Linked DNA regions of Homo sapiens: region 1 is linked to region 2. Evidence: fine-mapped expression QTL. Tissue or cell type: subcutaneous fat. Region 2 holds a variant in brackets; the other region holds the start of a gene. All regions are shown on one strand. Distances are from middle to middle.

What was found. PIP is the estimated chance that this variant, and not a neighbour inherited with it, causes the effect.
Region 1: CD2AP starts here. The variant in region 2 is fine-mapped to the expression of CD2AP in subcutaneous fat (FUSION, PIP 0.95).

Annotation. Positions count from the first base shown.
Region 1 is chr6:47,475,411-47,480,535 of GRCh38, reverse strand. CD2AP (CD2 associated protein) reads right to left here and starts at 2,747. Exons shown (of 18, transcript NM_012120.3): 1 at 2,288-2,747. The coding sequence starts at 2,291. CD2AP-DT (CD2AP divergent transcript) reads left to right here and starts at 2,464. Exons shown (of 1, transcript NR_187257.1): 1 at 2,464-3,293. RefSeq lists an enhancer at 1,463-2,189 and a silencer at 2,476-2,985.
Region 2 is chr6:47,252,724-47,257,933 of GRCh38, reverse strand. It overlaps TNFRSF21 (TNF receptor superfamily member 21), which reads left to right. Exons shown (of 6, transcript NM_014452.5): 4 at 4,413-4,678. Among named protein-coding and RNA genes, the nearest start is that of TNFRSF21, 55 kb to the left of the region's middle. The variant G/A (reference allele first, on the strand shown) is at 2,354.

The sequences.
Region 1 (5,125 bases), 220 kb before region 2:
TAGAAGAGAATTTGACCTCAAGTAGTCTCTGTCCAGAGCCCATGCTTTTAACTCTCTAGCTGTACCACCTAAACTTAAGAACCACCATTTAATAGGCATCCAAATTATCTTACACACAAAAAAAATTTCAGATTTTTTCATTTTGTGACAAATTAGATAAAATATCATGTAAATATTTTAGGCTGCATCTAAAATCATAAGAAAAAAGGATGGCTGGTAAAACCAAATAAATGAGATTTATATTAAAGAGCAAACTCCCTTTAAGTGAACTTGGGAATTTTATTATTACATGACCAATAAACTTAAAGAATATATATATTGATATGGAAATGTTTCACAAACACTTTACAAAAACTTAACCACAAATGCCCTCAGTAACATACCTTCAAAACACATTCTAAGTAGTCGAGAGTATACCAACATTGATATCCAAGTCTATATGAAAACTCACCTAAACAGAACACAACAAATAAATCACAAAGAAAAAGCCTCTGGACAATCAAAATAGGTATTCCAATGTCCAAGTATTGGTACACATTTACTTTTCTCCAGAGACGACCTCACACACTAAGTAACGGCCTACTGATTTTTCCCCTATGCAGAATCACAAACCTGAATATGATTTCCACACTTCTAAAAAAAAATTAGAAAAGGAAAGATGATGGGGGACACTAATCAGTTACAAGCACATCCAAAAGCAAAGCAAAAAAAAAAAGTATTTAAATAATTTCAAAATGCGAACAAATATTATTTAGAATTTAGCTCAAAAGCCCTATATGCAAAACAAGACTGCATCCCCAGGTCATCCAAAGTAGTTTAATTTTATTCTGCATCCCATTTAAGACAGAAAAGAACTGTGTAATTAACTTTAGTATTATCTTAATCCAAAGCAGTTAAAGTGATTTTATAATTTCATACTTAAAAGAATATGCCCACAATTGCCCTGCAAGCTCAACTAATCAATTATAAAATAATTCATTTGAAAATTCCAAATAGCAAATGTTTTATTTCACTGTTTTTGAGCTCAAGAGCACTTTTGAGTATGAAAGTTACCTGAAAGGAGGGAGGTGGAGAAGGGAACATAAAATTAGAAAAGTCTAAGAAAACAGAGGATAGCTAGGCGAGTGTCTATAAACAATATGCTCAAAACATCCCCCACAAAGCAAAGTGTGGACAGAGGGTGCCACATCAGCAGTAGTCTGTATTCGTCCTGCTTCTAAATCATTTGTTAATTACATGAATTATTCATTTCGGTGATCGTTTGTTGATATGAAGCAGTACCAACTCTCAACTGCAAAAAGTGATAGGGTCCTCCTGATTTGCTCTACAAAAATCAAACTTGGGTTTACTCTTACAGAACACGTTCTGCCTTATAGAGACACAGGGTGTTTTGTTTTTTGTAAGCTATTCTTAAGTTGCTTTTAATTTTTAAAGGATTGAGGGAGTTAGTTTAATGCCTAGCCCACACCGAACTTTGTTATCAAAAGAAATTGTTACACCACTTAACAAAACTCCTTTTCAACCCGGACTGCCACACATTCTGCCTTCTCTAACTTCAAACAAAACTATAAAGCACATAGTAAATAACATATAAGGCCTTGTATTTTTCTCTCCTCCGGCAAGGAAGTCTAACTCCAAACAGGAAACTGCTCCTCAAAGGATCCAACACTGAAGTCCAAACCCAGTCCTCGGGAGCACACTGAATGCTTAGGTGCCAACACACTTGCCTAGGTAGAACCCGAGTAAAACAAATACTCAAGCTTTCCTGTCCTTGAGGCACCCCTTGCGAGTTTCAGCAGGAAAAAAAAAAAGTTTTTGAACAAATTTATCTCTCTCCTTAAACGTATTCAAAGCCTCGCAGAAAATAAAGAAGTTGAAAGTGCTACTTTATCAAGTTTTTCGATCGCCCTCCCCCATCCCACGAGGAGGGGGAGGGAAGCAAGGGGATGAGGAAGGGAAGGAAGGTCAGGTCTGATTTTAGCTGGGCAAGGGGTTAGCAGAGGTGGCCAGGCGCCCCCGCCCCCCATCCCGCACCTTTCTGGTGAACAGGAAAAGAGGCGGAGAAGGGAGAGCGAGGGAAAGCACCCGCGAGCTCTCCCACCAGTTTCTCCGTGAGAAGAGCAAGGTGGAAGGCAGGGCAAGAAGGGGCGGTGGGGAGAATGGAGAGGGTGGGGTGCTGCCGCTCAGGGGCTGACCGCAGTCGCCTCCCCAGAAGGCCGAGAAAGGGCACAGCCTCCCCGGGTCTGGAAGGTCCGGACGGGCGGCGGGAAGCGCCCGAGTCTCTTACCCATGCTGGGGGCTCCCGCGGGGAGAAGCCGACGTCCGCTCCTCCTCCTCCTCCTCCAGTGGTGGCTCGCGCGGCCGCTCCCGCGGCTGGAGGCGGGACCCGCGCTCCGCGCTAGCCCCTCCTGAGCTCAGGCGGGGCGAAGAGTCGCCTCCATCCGCCCGCGGCGCTCTCCTACCAGTCTCTTCAGCGCGGCCCTCGAGGCAGAGGCAAAGGCGGCGACAGCTCCTCACCCCTGGCCTCCCCAGGAGCCACGGCGGCGGGAGGGCCCTACCCCGCCCGCCCGACCGCGGTTTTCCCACCCTGGCCGCTCCCGCAGTGGGGAGGGACCCACCGGTTTGCCCAGACCCTCGGCTCCAACCCCGAGCGCCCGCCTAGCCTCGGAGCCCGCCCCTCGCCTCTTCCTTAGCACTCGCAGTTAGAAAAGGCGACACCGTAGACTAAGGTGGGGACCCAGACAGAGGCCGAGAAGGTGCGGGGAGCTGGGACCGGGAGGAGGCAAATCTCGCGAGAACGCCCTCGTTCTCCCCGCCCCACCCCGCCCCGTCGCGTTCGGGCTCTCTCCCGGTCCCCACGGCTGCTGCCAGGTGCGGTGACGTCACGGCCGGGGGTCGCGCGCCGACCGCGTCCAGGTGCAGCGAGCGGATGAGGAAGCGGTGCAGAGGAGCTTGGGCTCGCTCTCCCCCCGGAGGCTCGGAACAGCTTGGGCGGGCGTTTGGTCTGGTTTGTCGCCTCAGATGGATCAAAAGGTTTCTGCTGATAGGCAAAGTTGCCCCACTTTCCGCGGCGGCGACGCGGAGTTACTTTCTGCAGCGAAGCAGCCTCGAGGACCTTAAAGGGAAAAGGCGGACAGAAGGAGGGCGAGCGCACTTGATTTCGACCTTTAAGGGAGGCCCAGATGCTGCCAGGCCCCTCAGTTTACCTTGCGAAGTTACTTACGGATCAGCAGCATTTGGTCTTCGTCGGGTGAGGGAGAAACCTAGGCATCAAATAAATTCTGTTTCACAGATTCCTTTAGTCTCTTGTCAGCTGAATGCAACTTTATAATTTGCTTTTTTTCTTTTTAAAGTATAATTTGAGTTGTTACTTGATCGAGAGAAAAATAGGCATCATGATTTGAAATACTGCCAGGCATTTTTTCTAGCGTCAATGTGAAGGAGGGCATAGGATTACTATAGTCAGTCAAACATGAGCTTGGTAGTTACGAAGAAGTATAATTATTTCAGCAAGCTTTTTTTCCCCCTTCTGTTTAAGTAGACCCAATTCCAGGGCAGATGTGTGTGTGAGCGTTTGTTGAACGCCAACTATTGTGCCTAGTGCTTTTTCAAGAAATTTTGTAATTCTCAGTCATCCAGCACTGAAACTGACTTGCCCTTTGGATCCAGGCAGACATGGGTCCTTGAAACTCAGCACAGCCATTTACTTTTTGTGGGACCTTGGATAAATTAACCTGTCTGAACTTCAATTTCTTGAGTATGTTCAAACAAATCTTGCAATGCAGAGCACAGTGGCCCATAGTAGTAACCTTGGACGTATCCATTACCACTATTTCCTATAGGCCTGCTTTTGCCATCTTTTAATTCTTCTAATGCTTCTCAAAAGGTTACATGTGGTAATTTTATAACAAGAATGATCAAACTCACAAACAGCAGCCAAAAAGGATAAAAGAAAAAAGTTGAATATACTCACCTAAACAAGATTACATTGACATCATGGAACATGTGCCTTTTTTAGGTAACAAATATGTGTTCAGCATTATGTTCGTTGTCCCCTACCAAGCAAAAAAATAAAAAGCTAAAGTACAGCGCTAATCCTCAGAGATTTTGCATTCTTCTAGGGGGGTGAGATACGAACACAAAGTTAATTAACAGTATGAGGTAGTGAGGGTCAAATGCTTGAGAATTTAAAGGAAAATAAATTACTGTGGGCAAAGCAAGCTGTAAAGAGAAGGTATGAGTTGAACGAAAGCTTGGGGAAGGCAATAATTCAGTCTGGAGGAGTCCTAGAACTGAGGAATGGAAGTGGATATGCAAACAGAGTATTTCTGAGCCTTTAAGAAATGTGTGTGGCTCAAGCAGCCCATAAGGAAGGCCATTTACGATTTGGAAGAATGAGGCTGGTGATGGGCTAAGAAGGATTCATGAAAGGAGACAAAAATATAAGCTATTGGAAGCACATACATAGGTAGTAAATTCAAGGCCCAGAGCCCTTAAGTTTCTAGAGACTAAATTTCTAGGTCTCTAGAATCCTTAATATTTAAAGAAGAAAGGCCAATGAATAGAATGGAAAAGAAGTTAAGTAAAACAGAAGGGGGAATAAAGACTATCAGATTTGATAATAAGGGCATCTTTGAAAATATAATTTCAGAATATATATAATAGAATATATAATATATAACTACATATTCAGAATATATATATAATAGAAAATTCAGATTAAAGGTTTTATCAATTGAATGATAAGGAAGTGGAGGCCACAGATAAGGTAGATATTTTCTGAGAAGTCAGGTCACATGATCTGACAACAAGATAAAACATTTACAATCATTTATGTCCTAGAAATTCCAGGATCTTCACACTTGTAATCCCAGCAATTTGGGAGGCCAAGGGAGGAGGAGCACTTGAACCCAGGAGTTTGAGACCAGCCTGGGCAACATAGCAAGACTCCATCTCTACAAAAAAAAAAAAAAAAAAAATACAAAAATTAGCCCAGGTATGGTGGCACAGGCCTGCGGTCTCAACTACTTGGGAGGCGGAAGTGAGAGGATCACCTGAGTCCAGGGCCGTCGAGGCTGCAGTGAACTGTGATCCTGCCACTGCACTCCACCCAGCCTGGATGACA
Region 2 (5,210 bases):
CCCTATTAACCACAATTGAGGCATCACTAACTGGGTGGGTGACCTTGCACTAGTCACCAACCCCAACATGCGATTTCCTTGCCAACAAAATTGAACACTTAACCATGTGTATTTATGAAGTATTTATAAACACATCTTATATATGTGTATGTTATATAGATAGTTTAAAAAGGAATAGTAAAATAAATCTCAAATAAAAGTAATAACATGAAAAGAAAACCCATTTCTCCACTGTCCAGCCTAGGAAACAGAACTTTATGAATACCTTTGAAATCCCTTCTGTGCTCCTTCCCCCTCCCCAAAGAGGTAACTATCTCAATTTGGCAAATCGTCCTCCTGCTTTTCTCTGTAGTTGATTGTTTTCTTTTGACTAACACTTTTTCCTACACAAGGAAGGCATTCAAAGCCCCAGTCTGGTCTCCTCACTGGGGTTTTGTGATAATGTGCTAGACTAAAAGGTTGGTATCCCCTGAGGGAGTCATTGATTTATCTTTGATTTATCAACTCCACGGTGGGAGAGGACAGCAGTGAAGAACATTGGCGACCCCAGCCAGTTCATGGAGTTGACTCCATGTTTTCATAGTAGAGAATCTAGCTGAGAGAGAGAACAAGATGAAACCTGATTTGTAGGCCTTAAATTTAGCTTCCAGTCCATTTTAGTTTAGGGAAATTTCATTGTATCTATTCTTTGTGGGTTTTTTTTTCTTTTTTTCTTTATTTTGTGGCTTAAAAAAAGGATAAATACAGTACTGGGTTTTGGAAGGAGGGGTTGTTAAACTTAAACCTTTTAAACTCTGTAATTACTTCGTAAAGGCCGTGTATTTGCATCTGAAATGCATTGAGCCTTAAGTTTAGTCCTCTGTGTATGGAGCTTTCATAATGATGGGAACACTTCCAAAAATAAAGTAACTCTATAGAAAATGTTAATCAGCTTATCCGCAGTGACCCTAGTGAGTTTCTCCATTGTACACATGAGGAAATGGACATGACAGTTAGAGGTTTGCCCAAAGCCACTGTCATCGGCATTATGAAGATTTAAGCAATGGTCCTACTTACCAGAAAACATGGTCATGTTTTCATGTAAGACACTGTGGACCTTAGTCAAATTGATCTAAATTAAGATTCAGGGACTAACAAGACTTTTGGTGTTTGGAAGAGTCTACCACATCAATCACAAAGAGCTGGCTTATTCCTTAAAGTTACCTGCAGGGTTTAAAATCAGTTATGGGTTTTCTGAGGAGTCTATTTGCTTGAAATCAAAAGCTCTGTATCTGACTAAACATTGCTCGGAAAACTGAAAAGGACTTGGTTCAAGTAACTTCACACTGCCAGGGAAAACTGTGTGAGAAGTACAGTAATGACTCAATTTGTGGCATCCTTTTTAAATTTTTTGTGGCATTCTACTTTTTTTGAGATAGAGTCTCCCTCTCTCACCCAGGCTGGAGTGCAGTTGTGTAATCTTGGCTCACTGCAACCTCCCCTCTGGGGCTCAAGCAATCCTCCCACCTCAGTCTCCCAAGTAGCTGGGAATATAGGCCTATGCCACCACACCCAGCTAATTTTTGTATTTTTTGTAGAAATGGGTTTTCACCATGTTGCCCAGGCTGGTCTCAAACTCCTGGACTCAAGCGATCCACCTGCCTCAACCTCCCAAAGTGCTGCATTACAGGTGTGAGCCACCCTGCCCATCCATTCTACTTTTATAGTTGACAGGAAAACAGCCTTCTACTAGGAACTGATTTTTGAAAACCATTTTCAGTGGATTGGTGCAGAATGTGTATACAGTCTTCCACATCATCTGCCTCAATAGGATTGCCTGGCAAAGTAAGAATGCGTGTTGAGGAGCCACAGCGTCCTTCGTTTTTACAGAAACTTTTATAATTATTATTGTTTTTATTAGCAATAATTGATAGCTCATTTTATAAATATTTTCCTGAACAACTGATGGGTGCAAAAAATATTTTTATTTTTTTTCTAGGAAACCTTTGATTGAGAAATCAGAACAGTAAACCCCTCTTTATTCTTCTCTTTTCCTTTCTCTCCTAAGCCTCACTTGGGAATGTGACCCTATTTTTTTTTATTGAGTAGTAAATATTTTTTAAGATATTGTTAACTATAACAGCTATGTTATCAGGGCAGGTGAGCGTGACCTCATTCAAAGACATGATATTGGCCAGGCATGGTGGCTCACGCCTGTAATCCCAGCACTTTGGGAGGCCAAGGCAGGCAGATCACCTGAGGTCAGGAGTTTGAGACCAGCCTGGCCAACACTGATGAAACCTCATCTCTACTAAAAATACAAAAATTAGCTGGGTGTGGTGGTGGGTGTCTGTAATCCCAGCTACTTGGGAGG[G/A]TGAGGCAGGAGAATCCCTTGAACTCGAGAGGTTAAGGTTGCAGTGAGCCGAGATGGCACCATTGCACTCCAGCCTAGCTGACAAGAGCAAAACTTCATCTCAAAAAAACAAAAAAAAAAACCAAAGACATGACATTGATTCAGAGGACTCACTCACCCGTTGTAGTAAAATACCAGGGCCCTTACTATAAGGGTGATATATGCATCCCACATGTAAATCCTGGCAAAGCCAATGTGTAATTGCAGAGAGAAGACGCCATAAACAGAGAGACACCAAAGTGAGCTACTCAGGGAGAGCCTCCCCTCACGAACGGTTGGTGCCAGGTGCTTATCCTGAGTTTTTGGATCTTGAGATTTGATTTTTGCATTTCACCAATTTCATCATCACCATTTCATCTGTTCATCAGATCTGGGGACCACAGATGCACACTCACTGGGTTTTCAAGTGACTGCTGAGCCAGGATGATAATATATTGAATCATTGGGGACAGCTGTCTGTCAGACTAACCAGCCATAGTCATTATAAGCCAAGGCATTTCCTTCATCTTGGAAGGTACCATCGATACTGTCACATTTCATAGTGGTTACACATACAGGATTTGAATTACAAAACTGGTGAGTTGGGTTCAATAACCAACTCACCTACCTTTGTGATACTGGGCCAGTAGCCTAACTTTTCTAAGTGTATTTTTTTTCTTACCTGTGTAATTGGAATATTAATGCCTTATAAAGATGTTCAGTGAGCTAATGCCTTAACATAATACCTGGAAGATAATAGCTATTGTTATTATACAGTCATTTTGGCTGCTGTCTTCATTATAACTATGCAAGCCAAGTTGGAAGACTGAATAATGAATTAGAAAATTGCTTGTTGAACATGAATTTGAGCACAACTTAGGTGTTCTTCAGGAATGCTTCTATTGGCCTGGAACAGCTGGGCACACTGTTAGTTGATATAAAGGACACCATTCCCAGAATTTGAAAACCTTTTACCTAGACAGTTCTGGGTAAAGTCCATTACAGTTTTAATTTGCAGCTTCCCTTTTTCTAAATGTCATGAAGTCACCATGTTTTTAGATGGGAGCCTCTAACTTACTTGGTTACTATTGTATTTAGTACAGTAGTCCTCCCTTATCCACAGTTTAGCTTTCCAAGGTTTCAGTTGCCTGTGGTCCACTGTGGTCCGAAAATACTAAATGGGAAATTCCAGAAATAAACAATTCATAAGTTTTAGATTATGCACTATTCTGAGTAATGCGATCAAATCTCACATTCCCGTACCATCCTGCTCTGTCCTGCTGGGGAAGGGAATCATCCCTTTGTCCACCATATCCATGCTGGAGACCTCACCTGCCTGTGAGTCACTTAGTAGCCGTCTAGGTTATCAGATTGACTGTCTCAGTACTGGTACCACAGTGCCTGTGTTCAAGTCACCCTTATTTTACTTAATATTGGCCCAAAGCTCGAGAGGAGTGATGCTGATAATTTGGATATGCCAGCGGCCATAAAGTGCTTCCTTTAAGTGAAAACATGAAAGTTCCCCACTTAATAAGAAAAGTCAATTGTATGCTGAGGTTGCTAAGATCTACAAGAAGAAGGAATCTTCTATCCATACATTGTGAAGAAGGAAAAAGAAATTCATGCGTAGTATGTATAGGGCTCTGTACCATCCATGGCTTCAAGGCATCCACTGGGGATCTTGGAACTTATCCACCCCTCTCCTTCAACAAGGGTGTATTACTATAGTAACAGAGGAATCACCGTGAATACCTTATTTGGGTTTGGCTTTCGAAACATCTTTTTGGGTCTGATTTATTATAATTCCATGATCATTCCTTCTTCTGGTTCCACACTCAGGAAGTGAAATTTGTATGAGGGTACCAGCTAGTCCACAAGATGAGCTGCTTGTGCCAAGTGCTTAAGGGAGGCAATGCATTCCTTTGACATACAGCGATAGGAAAGCGTGCCTCTTCTAGTTCATTCATTAAAGCAGAGCTGCCTTATGTAAGAAGCTTCCCTTACAAGCCCTCATTTGTTTTTTATTTTTTCTCTGGTGTAGGTATCGATATCCTGAAGCTTGTAGCAGCCCAAGTGGGAAGCCAGTGGAAAGATATCTATCAGTTTCTTTGCAATGCCAGTGAGAGGGAGGTTGCTGCTTTCTCCAATGGGTACACAGCCGACCACGAGCGGGCCTACGCAGCTCTGCAGCACTGGACCATCCGGGGCCCCGAGGCCAGCCTCGCCCAGCTAATTAGCGCCCTGCGCCAGCACCGGAGAAACGATGTTGTGGAGAAGATTCGTGGGCTGATGGAAGACACCACCCAGGTAATGGAGCCCTTGTTGTGTGTCATTACCACCGACCTATTGCCCCTATGCTTCAAATTTTATCAGTTGTATGGGAACAAAGAAAAATAACATATTCGGTGGATAGGCACACACACACACACACGCATACGCCTGCACACACACACACACACCCTACCTTCTAGGACGGGGGTTCTCAGTGGCCGTCTATTAGAATCATCTAGAAAACTTTAAAAAAAAATACTGATGCTCAGACCCTACCTGCAGACCAGTCACATCAGAATCTCCAGGGGGCAGAGCGTGAATCGGTATTTGTAAAAGCTCTCTTTGTTACTCCATTTACAATCCATTTTGCATGACACACTTTGAACAAAACCAAGAAAAAATACTTTTTACTACACCGCCTCTCCTCCAGAGGGTGTTTTTGTGATGTGGCTTATGAAGGCAGCATTCTTGCCTCCTGAGGATGCAGGTGGTGCTAGCGGCAGTTGATGACAGAACTGATTCTCCTCCTTGGGTTGTTCCGTGGAGCACATCAGATGGGAACTGAGGG